Linked DNA regions of Homo sapiens. The protein of the gene in region 2 purifies or fractionates together with the protein of the main gene of each other region. This does not show direct contact. Each region holds a gene or a part of one and is shown on either strand. Other genes may lie near its edges. The genes, in order: RBM19, MACROH2A2, IPO9, CCNT2, BMS1, PUM3 and URB2.

Region 1 (4,543 bases), on a different chromosome or scaffold from region 2:
TAATTTGCTATAGCTGCACTAAAAAACTAACACACTATTATTATAATTTGGTCAAGAAGCCCCACACTATGGAAAACAGGCTCCTGGCTTCTCACCATCTTCACTGCAGCCAGGCTACCCTCACAACTCAGTTTTCTAAGCAGATACTGGGATATTTGTGTGTGTGGTAGTGGAGTTGAGGGGACATTCAGGGCCCCACGAACAGCCAAAATAAGTTTGAAAATGCAAGAAGCTAGAGGCCTTGGCAGTCCAGCCAGAAGATGACATTTTCTGAGGTAGCTTCTTACTAACTGATCTAATCAAAATCTCAATCACACTGTGAGTTAGGAATTTTTGTCCACATTTTATAGAGAAAATGAAACTCATAAGGGATAAATGATCTGCCCAAGGCCTACAGAATCAAGGTTTGTGACTCAATTCAGAAATATAAGACAGTGAATTCAATTCCTCAGTGCCTGGGAGAGACCTGGCTCAAGTCTGAATCCATCATTCCTTTGCCAAAAACCTTTCGGTGACTTTCTGGCACCAAAGTCTCAAGGACGAGCACCTAAAGGAAAACATGCAATTCTTCAAGATCTGCCCTGACCAACCTCTTCAGCACCACGCTTTGACAAATTTCTCACAGCCTTCTCACTTCCGAGGTTTTACTTTGGTTGTCCCCTCTGGGTGATATTTCCCAAGACAGGCCCTGGCTAACTCCTCATTCTCAGTTCAATCATCTCCTATTCCAGGAGGCCTTTCTTAGATGCCTTAGATGGACGAGATAACCAACCCTCACTGTGCTCCCACAGCACTCGGTTCACATGTCAGTGATGCACCTTGCATCGTAATGATCTGGTGCCTCTCTTTTCTGCTAGCCTGCAAGTCCCATTAAAAATAAGGACACAGGCTTATCCACCTCTATCTACAGTGTCAGCAATATCACAAGTACTCACTACTAATTATTTCCTCAATTCAATCCCTAAACTAAAGATTGCTCAATTCAATCCCTGCTCTATAAATTACACCAGTGTGTGACCTCAGGCAAATCCCTGTACCTCGCTGTATCTTGGTTTCTTTACCTTTAAAATGGGCGTAAAAATAAAACTTACCTCACAGGGATATGGTGAGGATTAAATGTTACTTTACCTAAAGCACCTGGAACAGTGCCTGGCACACAGTAAACTCTCCAAGTGTCAGCTGCAACTGCCCTTGTTTTTATTATTCTTTCATTCATGAGATAAGACAAACAATGATAAGAGAGTCAACTACACTGTGAAGTGCAACAAAGCTGAATTTGGGAAGAAAAGGAAGTGCAGCCACGCTAAAAATCCTCATCGCACAAAGCAAGGCATCAAGAGACATGTCTAACCTGATGGATGGATGAGTAATAGATATTTTTAAGTATACTACTCAGAGATTATAACAGGATAATTAAAAACAAGAATATTACAGACACTGGAGAGGAGGAACAGATGATCTAAATTCCTTATTTTTCACAGTTGAGGCCTAGCAGATAGTCACTGGGGCAGGCAGGTCAAAAGGAGGAAAGTACACTCCTCAAATATACAGAGATACATGTGAGGAGTCCCAAAAACAAATCAATGAAGATGGTTACTCCTGGACAGAGAGGGAAGGTAGGACAGAGCAAAGACTTTGCTACTCATGTTATACACTACTATACTGTTTGAATTTTGAAAACTGTGTGTTACAAAGTTCCTTTGTCCCACCTGACAAATGAAAAAAAAAAAAGGAAAGGAAAAAACTCACAACATTAGAACAGAAATGGGGGCCAGGTGCAGTGGCTCACGCCTGTAATCCCAGCACTTTGGGAGGCCGAGGCGGTGGATCACCTGAGGTCAGGAGTTCGAGACCAACTTGTCCAACATGGCGAAACCCCATGTCTCTACTAAAAATAAAAAAATTAGTCGGGCTTGGTGGCGCGTGTCTGTAGTCCCAGCTACTTGGGAGGCTGAGGCAGGAGCATCGCTAGAACCCGGGAGGCAAAAGTTGCAGTGAGCCGAGACTGCCGAGATTGCTCCACCGCAGTCCAGCCTGGGAGACAGAGCCAGACTCCGTTTAAAAAAAAAAAACAAAAAAAGAAAAAAACAAAAAACAAAACCAAAAAAAGCCATGAAAGAGAGAGAAAAAAAAGAGATAAGACAAACAATGATAAGAGAATCAACTACACTTGAAACACAACAAAGCTGAATTTGGGAGGGAAAGGAAGTGCAGCTACGCTAAAAATCCTCATCCCACAAAGCGAGGCATCAAGAGACACTGTCTAACCTGATGGAAGGAGCAGTAATCCATTTAAAAACAAAAAAACAAAACAGAACAAAAAACAGCGAGAGAGAGAAAAAAGGATGATCCATTCGAGCCCACCGCATCTAATCATCTAATATTACGTACATTCACCTATTTTGCCTACCACGTGTCGGGTTCTGCGCTGGGCTCCAGGGAAACAAAAAAGTATGGCTGGGTCACCACTCCCCACTTACTGGATAAATGCTGTAAAGCCCTTTACCCACTCCGTATTCCTACTTGCCCTAAGGATGGGAGTGGGAATTGGAACGCAGGTCCGCAGATTAATATTCCCCATGTCTTCCCCAACAGTTTCCAGACTGGGAGAGGAATATAAATACAGTGTCGGACCATGTCCCGGGTCAACAACTAAAAAACAGTGATCGAATGAAAGAGGTTGTGGGAGCAGGGTATTCGCCACAAGGTGGGAGTTGTCATCTCCCCGAGAAGAGGTGTGTTAGGAGTCAGGTACCAAACAACCGGCCGTGAAACCGTAAGCAGTCACTATTCCTCTTTCCTCGGGATCAAATGGGGATAAGCCCAGGATCCCGCCCCCTTTGAGTTCAGAATTGGCCCGGAGTCCTGCCCCAGAGCAAAAATTCTTCGATCACCTCCAGGCATCTCTTCCCTACCTCACAGCTCCCGGCTGGTCTCATTTCAGATTCCCAAGTCCTGCCTCTGCACTCACCCCATTCGGGAGATTCTTCACGATCAGTCGCGACATGGCGCAGGGTCCCCGCTGTTTTGATTCCAACACGACTGGTCAGCGTCTTCCACCAAGTTTCACGCTACCGCCCTGGGCGCCGCCATCTTTACCGAGCCGGAACACAGTCACGTGGCTGAGACCTTGGCCTGACCTGTCCGGAAGTAGGCGTGGCTAATCCAAAACTACTCAGGGAGGTCACACCCCACAAGGGGTGGGCCTGGGCGCTTGCATTTTGCGCAGGCGCAGGGCCTTGGGCGGATTCTGTGAGACGCCAATGCAGCGGAGAAGGCGGCAGGGGGCGCCGGTCCCTAACATGCGCCGGTTTAGCTCGGTGTTAAGGGTCGCGCCAACCGGGCAATCGCGTTCTCTCCTTTTTCTTATTTTATTTTTATTATTGAGCCTTAGGACTCCCCTGAGAACGGGGGCAAGATTAGGGACCCTTGCCTTCCTCGTAGAAATGGGGAAAGTGAAGTTTAGAGAGATTGCCAGCCAACACAAATCAAGTATTGAGCCTTTTGTGTAAATACTTGGAATGAACATGTTGGAAATAAACGCTCTCATTTTGCAGGCAGATAAACTGGGAATCGTGCGTGTAAAGCAGCTTGCTCAAAGTCTTATAACTATGAATTGGAAAGTCAGATTCGAGCTAGGGACTGCCTAGGGCCCTACAATGAGTCTCTACGCCTTCAACCCCAGCCCCACAAGCATTTTGCCTCCCTTCCTAATGTTTGGAACTCTCAGCTGGCCAATCTTCTAGCTGAGAGATCTTGGCCAAAATGGCCTCTGAGCCTTTGTGTCTACTTCTATAAAATGGGAATAATTCTTTATTATGCTAGGGGTTAAGGAGGTGAGAACGTGAAAGGGATGTTATTTTCCTATTGCTTCTCTGAGCATTCTCGGTACCTACTCTTGGATGGAGACATCCTATGAAAACCCCTATTTTCACTCTTAAATGACGGTATTTCCTTTCTGTTTCCCCACAGTGCCTCAGCTGCACTGGACGTTGCTGCCAAGCTTCTGCAATTTCCTTCACCTAAAAGACATTCCGTCCCCCCTTCTTATTGTTAACAGCTTTATCACAAACCATGCAATTCACCCACTTAAAGTGCACAATTCAATGGTGCTGACTATATTTACAGAGGTGTGCAGCCATCACCACAATCAATGCTAGGACATTTTCATTACCCCCAAAGAAACACCACACCCTTTAGCTATAACCTTCCAATTCCTCCCTCTCCCTTCCCTCTGATAACCACTAATCTACTTTCCGTCTCTATGGATTTGTCTGTTATGGACATTTCATGTAAATGGAATAATACAATATGTAGTCTTTTGTAATTGACTTCTTTCACTTAGCATAATGTTTTCAAAGTTCTTCCATGTTGCAGCATGAATCAGCACTTTATTTATCTGTTTATTTATTTGAGACAGGGTCGGGCTCTGTCACCCCGACTGGAGTGCAGTGGCACAATCTCAGCTCACTGCAACCTCCGCCTCCCAGGCTCAAGCCATCCTCCCACCTCAGCCTCCTGAGCAGCTGGGACTACAGGCACA
Region 2 (3,500 bases):
TTTGTTTACTTTCTAAAGCCTAGGAAGGCAGGCAGACTGAATTATTGGCAAATAATTCATTTCTAATACCAAGGATATTTGGGAAACATATATTTCTATTTTCTTTCTTTGATAAATTACATTGAACCATGTAAGATGGGCCTCTCAGAAGCTGTCTGAGAAAGTTAGCTATGGATTTTTTTTTTGGCAGATGTAGAAATAACTGGGGTGTGGGGAATTCCCAGCAAAACCAGTAATGCCATCCTATCTACTGACCAGAAAGAGCTTCCATGCTCACCCTTGTCTGACCAATGTTAGCGTTAACAATTCTCAGCAAAAAAGAACAATTCTCACTCTCACAATGCTGACACTGCCACAGCTCTTTAGTTTAAAAATGAATAATTCAAGACTGCAGTGAAAATCATTATCAGGGGAGGAAAGGAGGCATCATTGCTTGTAAACAGTAGGTTATAAAAATACAGTGGTGTTTTAATATAGCACAAGGCAATTCTCTTTGTTACCTTCTGTCCCAGAACAAGGCTCTTAGAAGACAGAATGGTGAATCCATCCCCTGGCCCATCTTCAGAGGTGGAATTTGAAGTTCCTTCTTTATCGCTGTCCTTTGGTTTGGACTGTCGGTAAAAATCAAAAGGCAAGATGAGAACCAATCCAGAAAAAGCCTGAGGTGCCTTTATTAAGCTCTTCTCACGGCTGCCACCAAGTTGAATATGAAAGGAAGTGGTTAGGTGATGTGTTCTGCTGTTTCTTGAAGGAGGGGAGCAAAAGTCAGCAATATAAGGAAAGAAAAGGGTACCGCAAAATAGCAAAATAGAAAGTGTGTTAAAGGGCTCACACATACCTGCAGTCCTCACCTACCCCTGTGCACCAGCACATTGTCCTTGCTCATTTCAATGCCTGCAGCTCACGACGACAAGCATCGGAGCTGGGTGGGGCCGTTGATAGCCCATTGCTTAGCCTTCTTTCTCCCCAGGATTTCTCGGGGCACAGAGGCAGTGTGGAATGAAACATCCACAACTTCTACAGTAGGGTTGTCCAATAGAACTTTCTGTGATCGTGGAAATATTCATCTTGATCCTCAATAATGTTGCTGAGTGCTTGAAATGTGGCTGGTACAATCAAGGAGCTGAATTTTAAATTTGATTTAGTTTTAATTCAAATCCAAATAGCCTTGGCTTGTGTGCCTTAGCTCACACTTATAATTCCAATGCTTTGGGAGGCTGAGGCAGGAGGGTCGCTTGAGCCCAGGAGTTTGAGGCTACAGTGAGCTATGATCTCGCCACTGCATTACTGTACTCCAGCCTGGGTGACAGAGTGAGACCCCTGTCTCTTAAAAAAAAAAAGCCACATGTGACCAGTGGTTACTGTACTGGGCAACATAGGAAAACATTATTCTATCAGTGGCATCTCTGAGCTAAGCTACCTAGTATATCAAGCTAACCCAAACACCTAGTATATCAAGTATATGCCAAACACCTGAAATTCCACTGGCGGAACTCAGGGAATGCCTGCAGGAGACTAGAGGCTGTTTGGAAGGCAACACAGAGCTCTGCAGAGAAATAAAATGCAGGTTCCTGGCTATCATCGCTCACTTCAGATTTTGCTGGGGGTAGTAAAAGGGATCTGAAAACCATCCCTGCTTAGGGTTTGGAAACCTAGAGAAGACCCATTTCAGCTCTAACCTCAAAGGCCCTTTATTCTTTTACCTGTACATTCTTGTCATTTTCTTCCGGCACCAAGCTGCAAGAGTCCTCGGTCCTTCAGAGGTGTCTGCTACGAAGTCATTGTCTCATCTTTAAACTTCCCTCCTGTTCTGTGAGCGTCTTAGTGTCTGCCTGGGCTGCTCTAACAAAATGCTATAGACTGGCTGGCTCACAAACAACAGAAACCACTTTCTTTTTTTTTTGTTTGTTTAAGAGACAGGGTCTTGCGCTGTCACCGAGGCTCGAGTGCAGTGGTGCCATCATGGCTCACTGCAGCCTCTAACTCCTAGGCTCAAGCCATCCTCCTGCCTCGGCCTCCCAAAGTGTTGGGATTACAGGCATGAGCCACTGTGCCTGGCCCAGAAACTTGTTTCTCATAGTTCCGGAGGCAGGAAGTCCTTGGCGCAGGCAGGTTCTGTGTCTGGCAAGGGCTCACTTCCTGGTAGATGACGCTTTCTAGCTGTGTCCTCACATGGCAGAAGGGTCCCTCTGCCTCCCTCAGGCCTCTTTTATAAGGGGACTGTTCCCATTCGTGAGGACTCGCCCTCATGATCTAGTTATCTCTCAAAGCCCACACCTTGTAATCCTATGCCTCTGGGGTTAGGTTTCAACATATGAATTGTGGGGGAACACAGACATTCAGACCATTGCAGTGGGAGTGCCTGGCCCAGGACACGCAGCCTCGGCCTACCTTTTTGGACGTCCGTGGTTTGGCAGCCTTGGATTTCTTCCCCCCCTTCTTGCCTGACGTGGCCTTCCTGCCTCTTTTCTCTGGGGGTGGGGAGAGGATCGTTTCCGACTTGCCTTTGGTCCCTCGCTTTTTGGCCAGCAGTTCGGGGTGAATTCTGGGCAGGACGCCTCCACTGGCGATGGTCACTCCTTTTAGCAGCTGAAGAGAGAAATGCATGCGCTCATGTAGCAAACAGCCTGCTAGTTCCCAATTTCATACAGTTCTTTTTTTTTTTTTTTTTTGATACAGAATCTTACTCTGTCACCCAGGCTGGAGTGCAGTGGCGCGATCTTGGCTCACTGCAGCCTCCGCCTCCAGGTTCAAGCAATTCTCTTACCTCAGCCTCCTGAGCAGCTGGGATTACAGGCACCTGCCACCACCCCGGCTAATTTTTGTATTTTTAGTAGAGACAGGGTTTCACCACGTTGGCCAGGCTGGTCTCGAACGGCTGACCTCAGGTGATCCACCTGCCTTGGCCTCCCAAAGTGCTGGGATTACAGGCGTGGGCCACTGTGCCTGGCCTGGACTTAATACGGTTCTAACTGTTAAATGTGGCCTCCGCTTTCCTAAAGAAACTGCGTAATACACCATTTAATTGGCTTTTCCCACTTTCAGTTGTAGAGCATTTCTCCGTAGGTTAACAAGGCATCCTGTGATGTTGTACAGAAAGCAAAACGAAGTAAAGCAAAATAGAAGGGACACAGAAGTTGAAACCAGGGATGTTGCCCAGGGCTCTGGAATTCCAGACACAACACAGGATAAAAAGCTTCCCATGTGGGGAGCGCAGCTTGAGAAAATGATGTTCAAAGGTCATTGCAAAGACTAGACCCAGTTAATGATGAACCAGTGGTCTCCACAAGCTTGCACATACATTCCATCAGTAAAGTATGTCTGGCCATGCTCCTCCCAATCAATATAAGTTAATTTATCTGCAAAGAACAGACACGTACTACTCCACTAATATATTCTGCAGATTCGAAACCAACACTACCCCAAGCATGGTCTGCGACCATGGCTCACCCATGAACTGGTAGTTACCCGTCAGTGACAACAGAAGTATAGCAAGCATC
Region 3 (4,053 bases), on a different chromosome or scaffold from region 2:
GCCTCCCGAGTAGTTGGGACTACAGGCACCAGCCTGGGCAACATGGTGAAACCCCGTCTCTACGAAAAATACAAAAATCAGCTGGGCGTGGTGGTGCGTGACTGAAGTCCCAGCTACTTGGGAGGCTGAGGCACGAGAATCACTTGGGCCTGGGAGGCAGATGTTGCAGTGAGCTGAGACTGAGCCACTGCACTCCAGCCTGGGTGACACAGCAAAATCTTGTCTCAAAAAGTTTCCTCTAGGCTGGGCGCAGTGGCTCACGCCTGTAATCCCAACACTTTGGGAGGACAAGGCAGGTGGATCACCTGAGGTTAGGAGTTCGAGACCAGCTTGGCCAACATGGTGAAACCCCATCTCTACTAAAAATACAAAAATTAGCCGGGCGTGGTGGCGGGCGCCTGTAGTCCCAGCTACTTGGGAGGCTGAGGCAGGAGAATCGCTTGAATCCAGGAGGCGGAGGTTGCAGTGAGCCAAGATCATGCCACTGCACTCCAGCCTGGGTGACACAGCAAGGCTCCATCTCAAAAAAAAAAAAAAAAGTTTCCTCTAATAGGTTCTTACACATTTCCTAAGCATTTACTTTTTTGTTGATACTGTAAATTGGTTTTGGTTTTTAAAAAACCATTACGTCCTCTAACCTTTTATGGTTTGTGTATGTGAAAGCTATTGATTTTTATATTTTATGTCCTGTTTTACTGAATTCTTAGATTCTTAATTCATTCTTATTATGCCTTTAAGCTGCAGTTTTTGATCCACTCCTATGGCACCTATTGTTTCACTCAGGAAAGTGGATTTTTTTTTTTGGCATGACCGCCACAGAAGAAGCCACATTCTTTCTGAAAGAGTTATTAAATGATTAAATCACAAGCAAACACTTGAAACTTGCACAATCCCCCTACAGATACTGCAATCCATTCTAATTCTTAGGATTAATTTGGTTAGTACAGACTCTGGTTAAATCTATAAAACCCATTTGTAGCAAGAGAAGAAACAACAGGTATCTACAACCCGAAGATATGGGAGTCAACTATCAGAACTGATTCTAAAACACAGATGAGTCAGATAATTCAGGAACATCTCTTGGATAGCAATGTTCCAGTTCAATGGAAAAAAGCACTCTAAAATGCACATGTGAAATCCATTTAAAGGAGAAAGACAACTAGTAAGGGCATCCACAATTCCTTTGAGTTCAGATACTTAGTGTGATAATGGATGATACTTAGACTTCATGGCTTCAAGTCTGCTTAGAATGTCACTGTCCACCCAGGATTGGCCTCCCTGGACATGGTGAACCAATTCTGGTGTGCCTTATGTAACTTCCTTCACAATAATCTACAAGCACATTCACAAATTATCTGGGACATAACAGCATTTCCTTTTTTTTTCTTTTGAGACAGAGTTGCACTCTTGTTGCCCAGACTGGAGTGCAATGGCGCAATCTCAGCTCACCGCAACCTCCACCTCCCGGGTTCAAGCGATCCTCCTGCCTCAGCCTCCCGAGTGGCTGGGATTACAGGCATGTGCCACCACGCCCAGCTAATTTTGTAGTTTGAGTAGAAATGTGGTTTCTCCATGTTGGTCAGGCTGGTCTCAAACTCCCAACCTCAAGTGATCCGCCCGCCTCAGCCTCCCAAAGTGCTGGGATTACAGGCATGAGCCCCCGTGCCTGGCCTAGTATTTTCTTTTAAGGCATGATTTAAATAATTTTTCCATAGGTCATTATGATTTGGACTTTTAATGTTCCTAGCAAGAGCATAATTTTTGGATCATTACTACAGGGACAAACTAAAACAAGATCAAAATGAAGAAATTCTTCAATATACAGTGTGAAAAGATACTGAGGAATGAGACTTTTTGAGAAGGGTTTGAAACTTAAGACTTTAAGCTTAAACAAATCTGAACAACTGTCCTTCCAATGAAAGCACTGATATTCATATAGCTGTAGGGTAATACTGAGGCTCACAGCTCACAAAAGGGAAAAAGAACCACACATTTTCCATCAGTTCACTCTGGCACTGATCACAGGAGTCATTAGAGCATGAAGACCAGGCAAACTTTACACATAGGTCCTATCACAGCTTAAGGGTCCTTTCTCATCAACCAGAGAATTCCAAGTCTTTTCTCTTCAGAGAAAAGCTTAGCATGAATATATTTTTTCCATATCCCTGCCAGAAGGATGCACTCCAGTGATGATCACAGTAGCTAGAAGCTCTTCACTCTAATACAGTAATAAGTTAATCATGTCTGGTAACCTATCAAAGATCATATACAAAATTCCACTAACCACCTTGCTTCACACATCACTGAGACTGGAAGGGATGGTGAGAATAAGAGATCATCAGAAGATTAAGACCAACGTAGGGGCCAAAAACCCAAGTTAGCCAAGGGATCTGTACCTACAACAAGTATTTTAAGATGGACTCCTTCTAAAAGCTAATTTCTTTCACGCATGAAAGAAGCAGCATTAAAGTTCAAGTAACATATATTTGCTCAAAAGCAGATATATAATGGCAAAGAAAATCTTCAAATAACATCATCATTGTTAACTAAAGACAAATTTTAAAATAAAATAGATGAACAGATTTCCTTCTCTACAGACCCCTACAGTTTCAAAAATTATGACCACATGTCCAACATGACCACATGTTTCAAAGCCTCAAAAATTCAAAGACAAAGAGCTTATTTGCATTAGGTTATAGGGGGATGAAAGAGGGAAAATACAAAATTCTTTTACTTAACCCAATTTATTCTGTCTAGACCACATACCTACTAGAAATACAAGGATATCACTCACCATTTAAGAGTGTCATACCCATAATACTTTAGTTTACTTAAAAGCTATATAAATAATTGTTTCCAAGGAGTATGATGTTGATGGTAAACTCCGTGCTATAAAACCGATGCAAAATTAGCTGGGTGTGGTGATGCACACCTGTAGTCCCAGCTACTAAGGAGGCTAACATGGAAGGATCACTTGAGCCCAGGAGTTTGAGGCTGCAGTGAGCTATGATCACACCACTGCACTCCAGCCTGGATGACAGAGCAAGACCTTGTCTCAATTAAAAAACAAACTAAGAAACAAACTAATGCAAAGAAGGAAAAGCCAGAAAATAATTCTAAAGCTCTTGGCCTTATTTTAAATCTGATCAACACATTTGCTCCTATCCATTGGTTTCTGTTACGTAGTAAAACCCTACTTACAGATTTTTCACTTAACAGAGATACAATATTTTTTGAAATACAACTAAGTATATTTGTTAAAAAAAAAGTACGTGTGTGTGTGTTGGGGGACTTCTGGTTTTACTGATTGGTGTCTGTTTTTTTTTTTTTTTTTTTTTTTTGAGATGGAGTCTTGCTCTGTCACCCAGGCTGGAGGGCTGGAGTGCAGTGGTGTGATCTTGGCTCACTGCAAGCTCTGCCTCCCGGGTTCAGGCCATTCTCCTACCTCAGCCTCCAGAATAGCTGGGACTACAGGCGCCCGCCACCACGCCTGGCTAATTTTTTTGTATTTTTAGTAGAGATGGGGTTTCACCATGTTAGCCAGGATGGTCTTGATCTCCTGACCTTGTGATCCGCCCTCCTCGGCCTCCCAAAGTGCTGGGATTACAGGAGTGAGCCACACTGTGCCCGGCCTGGTGTCTTTAACACAATGTCTTTAAAAATATGAGAAAGAATAGCCTAATAACTTACTCTGGGATGATGAAGGCAGGGAAAATATAAGAAACACAGACATAAATATCCGCTTTATTTTGCTTTGCTTGGAAACGACTGTTTAAGATTAAACTAACATTCAATCTATGAAGTTGAGCCAAAGGGCAACACTGCCAAGAGGGCTATATGAAGTTGTTTTCTAAAGCTATTTTTGTTAGGAAATTTAATTTCTCTAGTTCCCTTTCCCATGGTGAAATAAGGACAGTTCATTCTGTTAATCTGGGTTTTCACCCTGACTCTAGATTCTCCTTAATTATACCTTTATTCCTATCCAAAATGGCATCCTTTGACTTCCTAAGAAATCCTCTGCCCTCTTTCATTCTCTAGTCTCATTCTCTTTTA
Region 4 (4,053 bases), on a different chromosome or scaffold from region 2:
TGACTGAAATGGGACTAGCAAAGCTCAATGGGGGATGGATAGAGTCCTAATACTTGGAAGCCCTCCGGAGTTTTAGTGAAATGAGATTCTTACCTATGTTTAAAGGAAGCTAACATACCAGGTAGAATCACAAATAGAAGTAGATGTAGAACACTAAAAAGTAATGCTTAAAAAATGACATTTCTCCCTAATTTTAATGAAACCTAACAAAAGGCTAGAAAAACAAAATAGCACCCAAATCAATTACAGATAATAAAAAGCATTAATACTTATCTTAAAAGTTTCAAGGATCACCTACCTCTTACTAACTGGGTACATTTCACCACATCTGTGTGTGGGTGTTCAATGGTGATCTCAAAACCTGAAATGATAAGCACTTTTTTTTCCAATCTCTTACCACTACAGTACTTGCCTGAGAAATGCCATAAACGTATAATATATTCTTCATTATTAAGAAAAATCCAAAGTTATAAGTTTCTCATCACTGACATTCTCATTACTTTTCCAATGACAAGATATAATTTTTCAAATACAATGTCTCAATTATGAAAATAAAGTTAAAAGACCAAGGGTAAATTTATTCAAAATTCTGAATTATAAATGATTCGGGATTATCTTAAAAACAAATTAAATTCCTGGCAAATACAACTGTTAAGCTGGTCCCACAATTTAAGGACGGAATTCAACTACGTAATATCTTTCTTAATATTCCAAAGCTTTCTTTCAGAAGACATGAAAAGTGCAGTTTTCATAAACATAACTGTTGGGCCACAGTGGTAGAAACGAGCTTTTAAATGATACGGCACTCTAGATCAAAGGGTTTCAACCAGTTACCTTATAACCATACTTCATTAATAATCAAAATCATATGACAAACCATAGAGGTCTCATGACTGCTTAAACTACTGTTTCTAATACCAAAGATGAAATGTTTAAAAGCTATCAACGTGCAATCAACCCTTAGGTGTGGCAGGGTTTCTGTTTTTATTAAAAGTGAAGATCACATTTGGTTGTCTTCAGAAGCAGTAAGTAAATAAAATCCTAACAAATGGGTAATCTAGATTTATAAAGTTGTTGTGTGGTCTATATATAGTTCTACTGTAATTAAATATGCAGAATACTTTAAAGCCATAGAGGCATATCTTCTAAATTCTAATGTTCCCCTTAAAATAACACTTTTCATTCTCTGTGCTTAAGAATATGTCATAAACAATATGGATATTACATTACGATTTTATATAACAACTAAATATTTTATAATGATTTATGATTTTTCATTTTCAATTTTTTACTTAAATGAAATTTATATAATTTTGTATAGTAAAACAATAACATGCTAAATCATTGGATTTGGAAGAAATAAGACCCTCACTTTTTTGGTATCTTTTTATTTTATAGAAACTTCAAATAATTTACAGCTGACCTCTGAACAACGCAGGGCCTAGGGGTGCCGATCCCCATGCAGTCGAAAATCCAAGTACTCCCCTAAGACTTAACTATCGTTGATCAGAACCTGCTTACCGCTGAAGCCTTACTGGTAACATAAACAGTTAATCAACACATATTTTGTATATGTATCATATACTGTATTTTTACAACACAGTAAGCTAAAGAAACTATTAAGAAAATCATAAGGAAGAGAAAATGTATTTACTAGTATTAAGTGGAAGTGGATCATCATAAAGGTCTCCATACAGAGTAGGCTGAGGAAGAGGGGTTGGTCTTACTGTCTCAGGTTGGAAGACACAAAAGAGGAGGCAGGAGAGGCAGGCAACACCTGGTGTAACTTTACAGAAATACACCACAATTTCTGTCTTTCGCTGGCATTAAATTCTCTGGCTTTAGATCCTTCACCTTCCCTTTGCTTTAAGCTTCTCTCCAATCATATTAGAGTCCATAGGTATGCCTTTCTTACAGCAATCCTGCATTCACATAAAAGCTTCATTTTCAATATGAGATAAAGTGCAAGGTTTTTGTGCCTGCTGGTATAGCTGCAGCGATGACTTCACAAATGTCTTTTTCTTCTTTCACACTGAACCTTACACTGGATTCATTTATCTTGAAATGGGCAACTGTAGCTACAGACCTCAATCTACAGTACATATCAAACAATTCAACTTTTTTTTGTAACATCACAACTTTCATCTGCTTCTTGGGAGCACTTCTGGCATCACTAGAGGCACTTTGTATGGGTCCCATGGTATTAATCCAAGTTTCCAGTATCGCACTAAATACGGTAAAAATATGCCAGAACCTCTTTTACCGCAATATGTAATTTACTGGAGAGACAAACTGTTCAGAGATGACAGGTGTCACACAGCATTTTACGTGGATACTCATAACATGTGAGCTCACTGCAATAGCAACAGGAGGTGGCTACAAAATTATCACAGCAGTACAGTTACGTATTATTAAAATTAATTTTATGTACCTTTACATTTGTTTATTTACATTTTCTCTTAACTGCGAATAGAGCCACATATTGTCTGTTTGTGTGCCTAACTTTTTAAAATTTTTATCTTTTAAAAATAGATTTATGTATATTTTATGGCAGTAAATGATAAAATAGACTAATATCTATATATAGTTTATGCATTCATGACATATCCAATTTTTTCAATATTTCTAGGCTACAGCTCACCTACAAGTTTTTTCAAATTGTTGCAAATTCCCAATTTTCCAATATTATTTATTGAAAAAAATCCATGTAGACCCATGGAGTTCAAACCCGTGCTGTTTGAGGGTCAACTGCATATGTATTTCACACAAACTAGTTTTGTAACGAAGAGTCTGTCACAATGGGAAATTGTGACTGATTTATCGCACTTCTATTCAACATCTGGGAATGGAGTAATGAAATTAAAAAAATGACAAATTCACGATATGACTCAGATACTATTCCACCTCTACAGAATGGAGGTACAACAGGTAAAGGAACTTTTGCCCAAGTTTACAAAGCAAGTCAGAGGCCTACAGATTTTAACTTGGATCTCCCCAAAGCCCATGTTCTTCCTACCACATCCTAGTAGGTTCTTCCAGAACTAACATATGACTTTAGATAAGCCATCACTTTCTTAGGCCTCAATTTCAGTAAATTGAGTAAGGTGAATGGTGACAGTAAATGAACTTGCATACAAAGATATAACCTTTAGAAAAGGATGACCAACATTTAAATAATTACTATGTCACATTAAAAATCATATGATAGGCCGGGCGTGGTGACGCACACCTGTAATCCCAGCACTTTGGGAGGCCAAAGTGGGCAGATTCCCTGAGCTCAGGAGTTCATGTCCAGCCTGGGCAACACGGTGAAACCCCGTCTCTACTAAATTACAAAAAAATAACCAGGTGTGGCAGTATGCACCTGTAGTCCCAGCTACTCGGGAGGCTGAGGCAGGAGAATTGCTTGAACCCAGGAGGCAGAGGTTGCAGTGAGCCGAGATGGCACCACTGCACTCCAGCCTGGGCGACAGAGCGAGACTCCGTCTTAAAAATAAATAAATAAATAAATAAATAAAATAAAAAAGGTGATATACTCATAAAATACTGACTGGCAGCTCGAGGAGAATAAGGATTGCTGTGTAGGTTTGTATACATCATAATCATATAAAACAACCCTAAAGGACCATTTTACTCTCCAGTGCAAATCCAGAGTGAAGCACAGTACTTCAACTACCTGAAAACCTAAGAAATCATACTGAAGGGTACGTTTACCATTCAATTTAATTATGCCAAATGAAATTAAATTCTAGAAAAGTAATTTCCTTATAACCAGGCAACCTTATTCTGTCTAAAACCTGTTTTAAAATAACTTTCTTCAATAATACAATTATTTCAGAAATCTTTTCACTTATTTAGAATGCTTTAGTGAAATACACACAAAAAGCCATTATCTGATGTAAGTACGTACCTAGAGTTTGTAGCATTATGGTTTCAAGTATAACCAGTTCTTGAGTCTGTTGAAGGTAAGCCTGTCAGATAAAAATATTATCAAATTGATTAAAATAAAAATAACATTACTAGACTGCATGACTGTTACATCTTGTGAGAATT
Region 5 (4,053 bases), about 27 Mb from region 2:
TGCCAAGAAACCAGTTCCCTGTGGAGTGATAGGGCCTTAAAGGAAAAGGAAAAAAAGAAATATAGCGAACCACAAATTTTAGATTCTAGTTTAACATACTGGATATGGACATTTAGATTTGGATATAGATTTACATATATACTCCAAACCACCTCCCCGCTCCCAGAAAAGAGAAAAATCTTAGGAGTGGAATTTTATGAAAGAAAAGCACAAAGCTATAATAACGCAGCCTGTAAGGTTTAATCTTGGCAACAGGCAAGTTATTGTAATCATATTTTACCCCAAAAGGCTGCTCCGCAATGCATGTGCTGTGGGGTATACTTTAGAAGCCTTTGTCTTCCATTGTGGTCTTCGATATAATACAGTGGGATGGTCTGAAACCTCCTCCACCCTACAGAAAATATGATTGGATCTCGGGACTTGAGGATTTTCTTATACCAGCGATGTTTCTTCAGACGCATCTGAGGGGACGAGAGGGTAAGATGATTGATGGAGGGGAAATCCACAGAGCCTCAGGCACCAAATATGTAGCAAAGGGACCCACCTGCACGTAGCCAACATTTCCCTCACTGTTGCCCAAGCCACCCAGGATAATGGGGTAATGGGGGTCAAAGTTCTGCACAAATTCACAGGGAACATTTTCAATCTCAATGCGGACGTACATCCCAGGTCGAAAACCCTCATACTGAACTCTGGCTTCATCATCTTGATCTTCAAATTCTGCGCGATTCAGCTGTACATGATGGGGAATAAAAAAACCTGTATGCTGTTATCTGTAATAAACATAAGATTAACATGAACAAATGAGCAATTTCTAAGTAAAGGAACTGTGGACAGAATTATGTAGGCTTTACCCTATTAAAAATACTACACATTTGGCCAGGTACAGTGGCTCACGCCTGTAATCCCAGCACTTTGGGAGGCCGAGGTGGGCAGATCACATGAGGTCAGGAGTTTGAAACCAGCCTCGCCAACATGGTGAAACCCCGTCTCTACTAAAAATACCAAAATCAGCTGGGCGTGGTGGTGCGTGCCTGTAGTCCCAGCTACTCAGGAGGCAGAGGTGAGAGAATTGCTTGAACCCGGGAGACGGAGGTTGCAGTGAGTCGAGATCGTGCCACTGCACTCCAGCCTGGGCAATAGAGCGAGATTCCATCTCAAAAAACAAAAAACCAAAAAAAAAGACCTACATATTTTACCTCTACAGTCTGCTCAGAATATGTCCCAACCGTTTTCTTCTCTCCTGCTCCAAGGGACAGCAAATGTAGATAACTGTGGAGCCCTGCATGCCCGAACACTGGAAACGTCCCCAGTCCACATCTTCTTTCTTTCCTTTCTGAACAATTCTTTCACACTTTTCCCTTGTCTTCAAACACCCACCACCACCCTCACCTTCACTCAGCTGATGGCTGTTTCCTGATTCACTCCAAAACCAAAAGAACCTCCACGGTCAGCCCTCTACCAGGGTTTCCTCCCATATCCAGCCTTATCAGAGCTCTGACCTGGCCCATAGGGGAGCTATGAGTGGCTATTTACATTAAAATTAATTACAATTACATAATATTTAAAATGCAGTTCCTCAATCACACTAGTCACACTGGAAGTGGTCCATATCAACCTGCGGCCAGTGTTACAATATTGGGAAGCACTGACGTGCATCTCGATGATCACAGAAAGTTCTACAGGCAGCTCAGGCACAGAATATTTGTCCATGCCTCTACTCAGGGCCACACATCACTTGCTCACTAGACACCATCCACTCTTCCTGGACTTTATTCCAACAGCTCTTCCCTCTGTTCTCTCTCTTATCTCAAAACCTTTTGATTCCACTTCTTCCACCAACAACGGCTTCATTTCTCTGCTTCTCTCTGCAGCAAAACCCCACAAAAGTTTTCTGCAGTTGCAGCCTCCAGTTCCTCTGCTCCCATTCTCCTACATCCATGAAAATTGGTGCTTGCCAAGATTGCTGAAGGCCTCCACGCTGAAGGACTCCTCCAGTGGTGAACTCTGCCTTCACCGTAGTTAACATGGCAGCAGGATCTGAACAATGCTTCGCCTCCATGTACAACTGGCCTCCTGTGTGCCTGCATGCTCACACTGCTTCTCCCTCCTAGGCACTGCTCAGGACTCACGGCCACAATCGCCCCATCTCGCCCATGCCAGTCTTGCTCCTCCCACTCACTCTGCACTCACTCCCGGCCACCTCACAGCGTTAAGTGGCATCTACATGCTGAGGGCATCTACATCTAAGTCCCTGGCCAGACCTCTCTCCAGACCTGACATTTCACTTGTCTGCATGATACCCAGCCGAACCAAACATCATCTTCCCAAAACTGCATCTGCAGAGGGTTTCCTATCTAACTTACAACAACCCGTCCTTCCAGGAACTTCCAGTCGACATCCTCATTTCCTCTCACACACCCCACATTCAGTCCACCAGGAAATCCTACTGACCCAGCTTCCAAATAAAGTCTATCCGGGTTTGACTCTTTCTCTCATCTCCACTGCCAGCCTTCTGGTTTGTGCCACCCGACTGATCTCTTGGCAGAGTGATCTGATTACCTCTCCTCTGCTCAAAACCCTCCAAGGACTCCCATTTCAGAGTGAAACATTCAGTCTTTTCCAATGGCCCACAAGGCTCTAGGTAATTTTAAATTGTAAATGGTGTGAAGCAAAAACTTCAGAGTTAGCCTAGTCATGCCTTTCAAAGGTCAACACAGACTAGCAACCACTAAGCTAATGCCTAATCAGGAAATAGTCCTTTGACTAGATGAAGACCTAGGATGAAACTCCGTTTCACAAATCATATACCTAATCTGTTCCAGCTTACACAGGCACTCCTGGCCTCACTAACAAGACGCAACTCAGATGCTCACCATCAACTGTACACACGTTTCTGTGTCTGTCTCCTTCAGAGTGAGATCACCGCCTCCAGCAACCTGCTCAGCATCCCCAGGCAGGAGGGCCACACCATCTCCCTTTATTTCTGCATCTGACCTTATACTCCACATGTCCTTCTGAACTCTGACCAGGATGAGTTTTCAGAGCACTTCCCCTGGGAGCTCTGGTGTGTCTATAAGCCACAGGGGCCACTGATCACCTGCCATTCAAATCAGGGAGCAGCGATTGGAATAGGCCGCCAATGCTTGCACTGAAATGAACACACTGTCTCAGATCACTACATTGTAAGACCATGTCTCAAAAGTAGAGACCATGTCTCAGTCATTTCTGTTTCCTAATTCTTGTTACAAAATAGGTATGGATCTTTTTCTGGTGACCCTCTGACTGCAGAAACAATGAGCTCACTGCATGAATAAACACACTCACATGCATCTCTACCCAGGAGTCCGAATGAAAGGCACAGAAGCAGGATACACAGAAGCAGGATAGGACGTAGGGACCCAAACAAAGTCAGGGATTCCTGCGCTATATGATAGTCTTGACAAGGGGCTGAGAGGAACTGAGGTTTCTCACCTGTGCTTGTTTCTGCATTTCTCCTTTAAGATCATCAAAATATGTGCTTTCTCCTTCATCATATTCTGCATCAAACATCTCCTTCAATTTTCTCTTCTTATCCAAATGCTTTTTCTTGGCACTTTCTTCTTCGTCGGGGTCAATTTCTTCCTTAACTTCTTTCTCTATATCTTCATTCTTAAATTTCCAGAAGAAAAAATTTTGTGTATGTTTATGAAGGTCTTTTCTTTAAACATTAGCTTTTTTAAAGTTCTATTTAAACAAGAATCTTAGCAAAAATCTGTTATCATTATCAATAAAACAAAAGAAAACACAACACAACCTTTGTCTCTGAATAACATGGTACTGCTACAGGAAATGGTTACATCTGCATTACAATTAGCTGCTAATCCTTAAGCTGGCTGGGAACACAAACTAGAATAAAAATAACAGACGTGTCCCTCACCCAGATGCTCCCAGACCCTGTTCTAAAGAAATACTAGGGAGAACAGGGACTTCATTCTTTTAAATGACACTTAAATTTAAAAAAAGGAGAATGATGCCAATGGTTGAATGTAAGTCCAAGAAGCTAAGACTTCC
Region 6 (4,053 bases), on a different chromosome or scaffold from region 2:
AATTTCCATAACCACACTGCAAATTTATTCTTAAAAAAAAGATACATTTTAATTTCTTTTATGGTTTTGGTCATAAGGAAAACTACTATCAAGTTTCTGAAGTGCAATCTGGCATCATTTACCCAGAGACTAAAATATGTACATACTGTATCCAGGCAGTAATTCCCATATTTAATTAACATGACTGGACAAATTCACCAAAAAAGCTAGTAAATATCAGGTTTTCAAAGAATATCTAATAAAAGTAGAGAACTATCACAATACAATGTTAAATTAAAAAAGGAGAAAAGAATGCATGTGACATGATTTCCATTTTGTGTAGATAAAATATGAAAATACATGTAGATGCAAAGAAAAATATAATAAAACAATAATTTTCTGCTTGGTAATTTTCTGAATTTTTCCAAATTTTCTATAATAGACATGAATTCATCTTACTATCAAAAATAATTAGAATATGTAGTTTTATTATACTTACATTAGCCACCTTTTCAACATAAGTCTTCATTGTTTTCACAATCACTTTCCTGTCCTTAAAAAGGAAAGATTGTCTCACTGAATTTTCAGTTATGTATTAAGGGTATTTTGTAGTTAAACATTTTAATATAATATTTATTAAGTTTTCATTTGAGTGGCATATGTTTTCATTAGTAAAAATAATAGTTATACAGCCAGAACAAAAAAACTGTAATATACCAAAGAAGTTGGCTTAGAGCTATTACAAGCTTAGATGTGTATGTGATAGGGTTAGGGTTAGGGTTAGGGTTAGGGTTAGGGTTTGCAAGCCACCTTTCACAGTGAGACCAGACAGATCCTTCTTCCAAGGTCTAAACTGTCCTCAAATGCAGAGTCTAGCAAACAGTTAGTACTCATCTGCATTTGTTGAATAAAATTAAATTTGCATTAAAAAAAGTAGATATAGTACAACTATCTTTTAAAGGCAGAATTATGCTGACCAAGGAAATAATGATAATTTCTGTTAAACTTCTGTGATTAATAAGGATCTTTACCTTTTCCCTCAAGTACATAACACCTATGGGAGCAAATGTGTGTGGCCAGCTGTTTGTTATCTCTTCCCATTTTCCCCTGCCACAGTATGATCATTAAAAGAGGAGGTACCAAAACCTCTATAAACTAAAGCTTAAATACATATTATGTTTACTTGCTTGATAGATCTCTTCCCATCCTTTAATGAAACTTCAAGGTTTCTACTAAAGCAGAGGAAAGAAGAAACACTAGGCCTAAAGAAGATGGCTCATTCCCATCAGGCTCTAAGGCACAACTTTTGGAAGATAATGCACAACAGGGCAAAGACCAAAGGGGGTTAAAAGTCTAAGGACAGCTAAGTCAAGCCTGCAGATAAAGCATGGCCCTGACTTGTACAGTTTAAATGCCCAAGTGCTGTCACACTTACCTTGGGCGTGCCATGCCACAGGCAGTGCATGGCCACTCTGGCGCCATCGTGTGTGTGTGCCAGGTAGACCACCGCTTCGCGGATGGCTTCAATCATTTCCTAGGGAACAAATGCTGTCAGGAACAGGGCTCTGCTTTATTTTCTTCTTTCTACTGTTTTATCTGTCTGTCTACAGGGGGCAGTTATGCAGAGAGAAGGAAAGGAAGAGAGTGCCAGGTAGCAAACAATTTCATTTTGTAGACAATCAAACAGAAACACGAGCTCTTTCTAGAAATGTTCTTTTCCATCAAGAGCAGTAAATACTGCTGGCAGACAATATCTATTAAAAACAATACCTGACTTTTACCAATGTCTGTTAAAAAAAAGGTCAAGCTATATGTGTAATATAATATATTCTAAATAATTTTCCAAGAAAAAGAAGCCTAGGAGGTGGTGGTGATAAGAAGGGAGCTTTTAACAGAATAGCGAGACAAAGAAAATGCTCTTCCCCAAAAGAGACCTGTATGCAATAAACAGAATCAAAACACTCATTTTGACTGAAAAGCTTCCCTTTTCAGTTCATAACTGGATTATCTCCAAAAATCACATTCTTTACCATAAACACGCTTACATAACATTTCCTCATGAAAAATTTCTATACTAACATTTAGACTAAGACCTCACCTATAAAATGACCCTTTAGTAAAAAACATTTAATTTCTCACTAGGTAGCTTAGCTTAATTTAACCTTTAGCCTTCATTTTCCATGTATATAATTTCTTATTTACATTTTCTTTTTTTTTTGGAGACGGAGTCTTGCTCTGTCACCCAGGCTGGAGTGCAGTGGTGCCATCTTGGCTTACTGCAACCTCCACCTCCCAGGTTCAAGCAATTCTCCTGCCTCAGCCTCCCGAGTAGCTGGGGCTACAGGTGCCCGCCACCACCCCCGGCTAATTTTTGTATTTTAGTAGAGACTGGGTTTCACCATATTGGCCAGGCTGGTCTCGAACTACTGACCTTGTGATCTGCCCGCCTCGGGTTCCCAAAGTGCTGGGATTACAGGTGTGAGCCACCGTGCCTGGCCCTATATTTTCAAAGTCTAAGGCATGTAGGATGTAAATGAGTTCTGGCAACTAACAAGTGCAGAGCTCCATTTTAGTCTATTCCCAATTTAAAAATGTACATTAAATAAATACAAAGCCTCATGCCACGAAAGAGAGGGTAGGTGCCTAATTTCATCAATAAGGAACAAACAATTTCAGCCTCAAGTATCTAACAATCCCTTCCCAAGATGACTCTCAAGAGCAGTTTCAACTAACATATCTGAACTTAGGAATCTCTTCAGAGCTATCCAGATGGAAAGCCATGCATATATTCCAATTATGCTTCCATTTTCCCCGAAGGTTTTTTTTTTTTTAAGTCTCTTTTGAAAATGCCCCCAATACCAGAAAAGACAATTTGTCTCATTACTTTACACGCATGCTAAGTTCCAAATGATTTTTTGCTGTTACTGAAACATTCAACACTAAAAAGATACTTTCTACCACTGAATATATTCAAATAATCATTGTGTCATTTCTGAGCATATAGTCCTGCCTCAGAACCGTGGGATACTGTATTTTTCAGGAAGTAAGAAAAATCTCCAAAACAGAAGGTGCTGCTATGGTCATCAAACCATAAGCTTACGTGGGTGGCTACCATCAGGAAATTATTTTGCATGCCAATTTTAAGAGGGTCAAAACTCCAATGAATGTATAGTCTGGCGTTATTTGTTAAGTCAGTCTCATTATTTTCATTATCCCTTGTGATTGGAAAATGAGGACAAATGGACAATGAGCTCACTGTATGATGAGGCAAGCAAAGTTCAGGGAACTAAATGATGAATTCTCATTTGTATTCCCATGACTGACTTGAAGGGCAGTGCAATTTACCTTCACTCTGTTCTTCTATGATATAAAGTCCAGGTTTTCATCGTCCACTTAGTTTTACAAACATATCCTCCTCTAACCTTTTAATGCCAAGCTAATTTTTTTTTTGTATTAGCACAGTTGAATTTAAAACTATCCGAATGCTTGAATATTCCTCCACGAGTTAGTTAATTTTCAGATTAGGTTAGCCAGCGGATACTCTCTGGATTATAATTAAGATATAAAAATTTAATATGATTAGTAAAACTAGGGTCAATTCTATTGTTTACTGGAATAAAACCTAAATGGAATTAGCAAACGTGTTCAAAGGGAGTTGAGTAAATTATCTTCCCTAAATAAGGAAGCAACTCTAAAATTTCCACAAGACAACGTACATCAAAGCAGTTTTTCAAATTTCTACACCGCTCCTCCTCCATGTTTTAGTTTAAAAACAAAAACCAAGAACTTACTGATCTGAGTTTGGGGGGTGCATAGGTAAAAAAGTCCAAGAATACTTTATGCACCAATGAGTGCTTAATCACAGCTTCCCTGAAAACAGAAAAAAAAAGCAAAAAGACACAACAGATCTGGCACTACAGTCATACAAAGACAGGTAATCTCAAAGTCCTAAAGTAATCTAAACAAGTGAAATGGTTTTACTGAATACAATTTGTCATAAAATAGACTGTATTTTTCAGAAATACTAAAACTTAAACAAAAATTTAGATGGTAAAATTGATTTAGTGCCATCTA
Region 7 (4,053 bases), on a different chromosome or scaffold from region 2:
AACAAGGCTCCCAAATGAGGCTCAATATCCTGAGTGACCTGAACAGGAATTTCAGGATCTGTGTGGGAAAGAAACCAAAATTGTTAAGATGTGACAGGTGAAATAAACTACCAAGTAGCCATAGGATGAAACTGCGCACAGCTGTGGCCGCCATCAAAAATCACCAAGTTAGGGGCATGGTGATATAAGCACTGGTGGAAAAAGCAGGTACACGTAGTTACTGTGATGCCATGCTCTCACACGCACAGCTACGCCTGTGCATTGTGTGTACACACACAAACACAGAAGACGACAGCCATGCTTAGGAGGTAAACCTGAACCACAGAAGACAGTGATTATTGCTTTGTGCGGTTGACCCTTGAACAATGTTTGAACTGCATGGATCCACTTATACATGGGTTTTCTTCTGCCTCTAGCACCCCTGAGACTGCAAGACCAACCCCTCCTCTTCCTCCTCCTCAACCTACTCAGTGTGAGGATGAAGAGGATGAAGACCTTGATGATAACCTACTTCACTTAATGAATGGCAAATACATTTTCCCTTCCTTGTTATTTTCTTAATAACATCTTCTTTTCTCTAGCTTACTTGATTGTAAGAATATAATACATAAATACATACACAAAATACGTGGTAATCGACTGTTTATGTTCAGCAAGGCTTTGGTCAACAGTAGGCTATCAGTAGTTTAGTTTCTAGAGAGTCAAAAGTAATACAAGATTTTTTTAATAGAATTGTATCAGAAGGATATACACGGAATTTTTTACTGTGCTGGGGGTTGGTGCCTTAACCCCTATGTTGTTCAAGGGTCAACTGTATTTTATTTCTCTATTTTCTTTGTGTTTCTTTATAAAATCGGTAGGGCTGCAAGAGTAGGTGGTATTTTAAACAGATGGGAAAGTCAGAAAGACTAAGAGAGCTCCACTTTTCAGGCCTGGATGACTGTCAGGAAGTCACCCAGCTGTTCCCCATCATCCCCAGTGTCCTTGGGCCCACGGTTTCACAATAACGCCCAAAGCCAGGGCACTCAAGGCCCTTTATCGTCTGGCCCCAGGTCATCTTTCCAGCCAGCGCTTCAGCCCCATCTGCCTATTCCACATTGCCAGAATACCTTCCTGCTTTCCTGTCTTTGCTTACTATTTACAGCACTGGGGGAAAGGGGACTTTTGAGAGGTAAAGACCTAGGTCCAAGTCTCCCACAAGCTGTAAAACCCTGGACCCATGATCTCTCTGAACCTCAACTCCCTCATCAGTGAAGTGGGCATAACAGCACCAACTCCTGTGGCTGGCAAACAAAAAAAGGCCACAGAGCTCACAACATAGTGCCCTCACATGAAAGGCTCCCATTTCCACCTGCCCTAGCTACCCTTCAAGGGCCACTCACACGTGGCCTGTATGTGGCCTCTCCACCGAGTCCCATCGCTCTGGTTCGCTTTATGGCGTCTCCCCCACCTTTACCCTGTGATTTGTGCGAATGTCTGTTTACTTAATTACATAGGCCAAAATCAACACCTCACTCATCTCCAGAGCAGGATACAGCCTCAAACATACAAGCATTTTAATTGGTTTTTTTTATGTTTCTGGAGACAGGGTCTCACTCCATCACCCAGGCTGGAGTGCAGTGGCACAATCATGGATCACTGCAGCCTCGACCTCTTGGGCTCAAGGGGTCCTCTCGCCTCAGCCTTCGGAGTAGTTGGGACCACAGGTGCATGCTACCCACACCGGCTTTTTGTAGAGATGGGGTTTTGCTTTTTCACCCAGGTTGGTCTCAAACTCCTGGCCTCAAGTGATCTCTTGGCTCAGCCTCCCTAAGTGCAGGATTACAGATGCCAGCCACCACTCCCAGCCAAGAAGCATTTTTAGAAGTGTTGATTTCTGTAATTGAATTCAGGTCCTCTGTTCTGCTGTCAGAAGGCATTCTTTACAAAAGCCCACCTCTGAGCCATCCTTAAGGACACAGGGAGAACTCCATGGCTGGGGCACCTGCACGGCGCCTCTTCACACTCCCTCTCCCTGCCCAAAGCCTTGGGCCACTCCTCACTTGGCATTTCTTCCAGAGCACTCACAACTCTGGCACTTCCCTGGACAGTATCTAACAGCTCAGGTGGAAGAGGCCTGGACACAGCAACACCCCAGGCCCATGAGCTGAGGGCACAGTGTGGCAGGCTGGCCTTGCCCAACCCTGACCACACTGTGACCGAGGTGCTCTGTCCCTGAGGAAATAAGGTACCAGCAGTCCAGGGACATACACTTAGGACTTAAAGACTGCCTCAACTTGGCCAGGCACGGTGGCTTATGCCTGTAATCCCAGCACTTTCGGAGGCTGAGGCAGGCAGACCACTTAAGGTCAGGAGTTCGAGACCAGCCTGGCCAACACGGTAAAACCCCATCTCTACTAAAAATACAACAATTAGCCGGGCATGGTGGTGCATGCCTGTAATCCAAGCTACTCAGGAGGCCGAGGCATGGGAATCGCTCAAAGCCGGGAGGCGGAGGTTGCAGTGAGCCGAGACCGGGCCACTGTACTCCAGCCTAGGTGACAGAATGAGACTCTGTCTCAAAAAAAAAAAAAAAAAAAAAGAGATTGCCTCAACTCAGTAGGGTTGAAGAGGAAAAGGAGGACACAATATTCTCTTTAGCTAAGGGGCACAGGGCAGAGCTTCAGACCACCAGCTGCCATTTCTTGGGCCAGTCACTTAGAACACTGTAATTAGGCTTAATAAAAGACTCTATTTTAGCCCCCATTAAGAAGGTGAACACCATTCGCTAAAAGAGACCCTAACACAATAAGACAGAACAATGTAATATCAAAGCCTTTCAGTTAATCCACAATCCAGCCAGAGACAGGTTACTGAAAGGGAGACAACAGCAGCGTGATTTGGCCCATGGCACTTCAGTTCTGGCACTGGCACAGGCAGACCAGATGGCTTTACTTTCTGCGAGAACCCATTTAACCCTCACGTACCGAAAGGCACGCCCGTGGCCCCACCCGTCACAGCTTCTCCACCCAGAAACACAGAGGTTAAGGTGTGCTTAACACAGACGTTAATGTGACATTAACGAGGGTCAGATTCGGCTGACTTCCAGACCTCACCTCAAAAGACTGACCTGACCCCAGCCCTTTCGTTACCACCAAAACAAAAAAGAAAAGACCCCCCACAACTGTGATGTGTGCCATCTTGAAACAAGAAATCTCTTCCATTAACTGTTTGTTTGGGAGGAGTAAAAGTGTGTTTTATTTGTATACCCTAATAAAGGTAACAAATCTTAATCATCCTTCACTGTAGAGGAAAACCTCAACAAACTCTAAATGGGCCTCCAAAAACATTATAATCTATCCCCTGCTTATGGCATATTTAATTAAATCATAGAAAAGTATTTTGATTTATTCTTATTAAAATGCAACATTAAAGTGTACAAAATAAGAAAATAGCAACAATCACAACATGTTAATGCAATAATACAATGCATGTTAATACATGCATGTTAATACAATAATTATTTTAATTTTTGGATGGGTTTCTAGCCTTTGTCTGCACGCATGTATATCTTATATAGCTGTAATTGTGGCATATTTAACATTTCATACTGTACTTTTTTTGCTTAATATTTTCTAGATATTTCTAGCCCTTGTCTTCATAATAGTTTTCATAATTATATTTTTAACGGCTGCATAGTAACCCATTAACCTTTCACCAGGGGGGCTGTAAAGGTCGACTCTGTGCAGGAAGACATGAGCTCTCTTGCTTCGAGGCTGTGTACGAGGTCCTAGTTTGCTGCTTGGAAGGCTGCCTTCAGACTAAAACACTTTGATGACATTGAAGGTTAGCCTTGGTCCAGTGAGCACTTGCACCTGGCAGCACCCTAATATGGTGGGGGGACAGGGGTGAACTAAGGAAGGCACAGTCCTGTCCTCAAGGAACTGTAAGAGGCTCTTTGGAAATTAAGTGATTTGGCTGGACATGGTGGCTCACGCCTGTAATCCCAGTACTTTGGGAGGCTGAGGTGGGCGGATAATGAGGTCAGGATATCGAGACCATCCTGGCTAACAT

The links.
Region 1: the proteins of MACROH2A2 (region 2) and RBM19 purify together in Homo sapiens (affinity purification with mass spectrometry; 2 studies listed by BioGRID and IntAct, with this or other methods). This does not show direct contact.
Region 3: the proteins of MACROH2A2 (region 2) and IPO9 purify together in Homo sapiens (affinity purification with mass spectrometry; 2 studies listed by BioGRID and IntAct, with this or other methods). This does not show direct contact.
Region 4: the proteins of MACROH2A2 (region 2) and CCNT2 purify together in Homo sapiens (affinity purification with mass spectrometry; 2 studies listed by BioGRID and IntAct, with this or other methods). This does not show direct contact.
Region 5: the proteins of MACROH2A2 (region 2) and BMS1 purify together in Homo sapiens (affinity purification with mass spectrometry; 2 studies listed by BioGRID and IntAct, with this or other methods). This does not show direct contact.
Region 6: the proteins of MACROH2A2 (region 2) and PUM3 purify together in Homo sapiens (affinity purification with mass spectrometry; 2 studies listed by BioGRID and IntAct, with this or other methods). This does not show direct contact.
Region 7: the proteins of MACROH2A2 (region 2) and URB2 purify together in Homo sapiens (affinity purification with mass spectrometry; 2 studies listed by BioGRID and IntAct, with this or other methods). This does not show direct contact.

Annotation. Positions count from the first base shown.
Region 1 is NC_000012.12:113,963,221-113,967,763, forward strand, and holds the start of RBM19 (probable RNA-binding protein 19), read right to left. Parts: upstream 3,106-4,543; 5' UTR 3,008-3,105; coding exon 2,972-3,007; intron 1-2,971. UniProt on the Homo sapiens protein: Plays a role in embryo pre-implantation development.
Region 2 is NC_000010.11:70,090,846-70,094,345, reverse strand, and holds part of MACROH2A2 (core histone macro-H2A.2), read right to left. Parts: intron 2,590-3,500; coding exon 2,392-2,589; intron 612-2,391; coding exon 501-611; intron 1-500. UniProt on the Homo sapiens protein: Variant histone H2A which replaces conventional H2A in a subset of nucleosomes where it represses transcription. Nucleosomes wrap and compact DNA into chromatin, limiting DNA accessibility to the cellular machineries which require DNA as a template.
Region 3 is NC_000001.11:201,835,408-201,839,460, reverse strand, and holds part of IPO9 (importin-9), read right to left. Parts: intron 1-4,053. UniProt on the Homo sapiens protein: Nuclear transport receptor that mediates nuclear import of proteins, such as histones, proteasome and actin. Serves as receptor for nuclear localization signals (NLS) in cargo substrates.
Region 4 is NC_000002.12:134,938,920-134,942,972, reverse strand, and holds part of CCNT2 (cyclin-T2), read right to left. Parts: intron 3,972-4,053; coding exon 3,911-3,971; intron 362-3,910; coding exon 299-361; exon of another isoform or gene 1-298. UniProt on the Homo sapiens protein: Regulatory subunit of the cyclin-dependent kinase pair (CDK9/cyclin T) complex, also called positive transcription elongation factor B (P-TEFB), which is proposed to facilitate the transition from abortive to production elongation by phosphorylating the CTD (carboxy-terminal domain) of the large subunit of RNA polymerase II (RNAP II).
Region 5 is NC_000010.11:42,816,916-42,820,968, reverse strand, and holds part of BMS1 (ribosome biogenesis protein BMS1 homolog), read right to left. Parts: intron 3,652-4,053; coding exon 3,475-3,651; intron 774-3,474; coding exon of another isoform or gene 734-773; coding exon 545-733; intron 462-544; coding exon 281-461; intron 36-280; coding exon 1-35. UniProt on the Homo sapiens protein: GTPase required for the synthesis of 40S ribosomal subunits and for processing of pre-ribosomal RNA (pre-rRNA) at sites A0, A1, and A2.
Region 6 is NC_000009.12:2,823,303-2,827,355, forward strand, and holds part of PUM3 (pumilio homolog 3), read right to left. Parts: intron 3,850-4,053; coding exon 3,771-3,849; intron 1,514-3,770; coding exon 1,415-1,513; intron 533-1,414; coding exon 479-532; intron 1-478. UniProt on the Homo sapiens protein: Inhibits the poly(ADP-ribosyl)ation activity of PARP1 and the degradation of PARP1 by CASP3 following genotoxic stress. Binds to double-stranded RNA or DNA without sequence specificity. Involved in development of the eye and of primordial germ cells.
Region 7 is NC_000001.11:229,639,538-229,643,590, reverse strand, and holds part of URB2 (unhealthy ribosome biogenesis protein 2 homolog), read right to left. Parts: intron 59-4,053; coding exon 1-58. UniProt on the Homo sapiens protein: Essential for hematopietic stem cell development through the regulation of p53/TP53 pathway.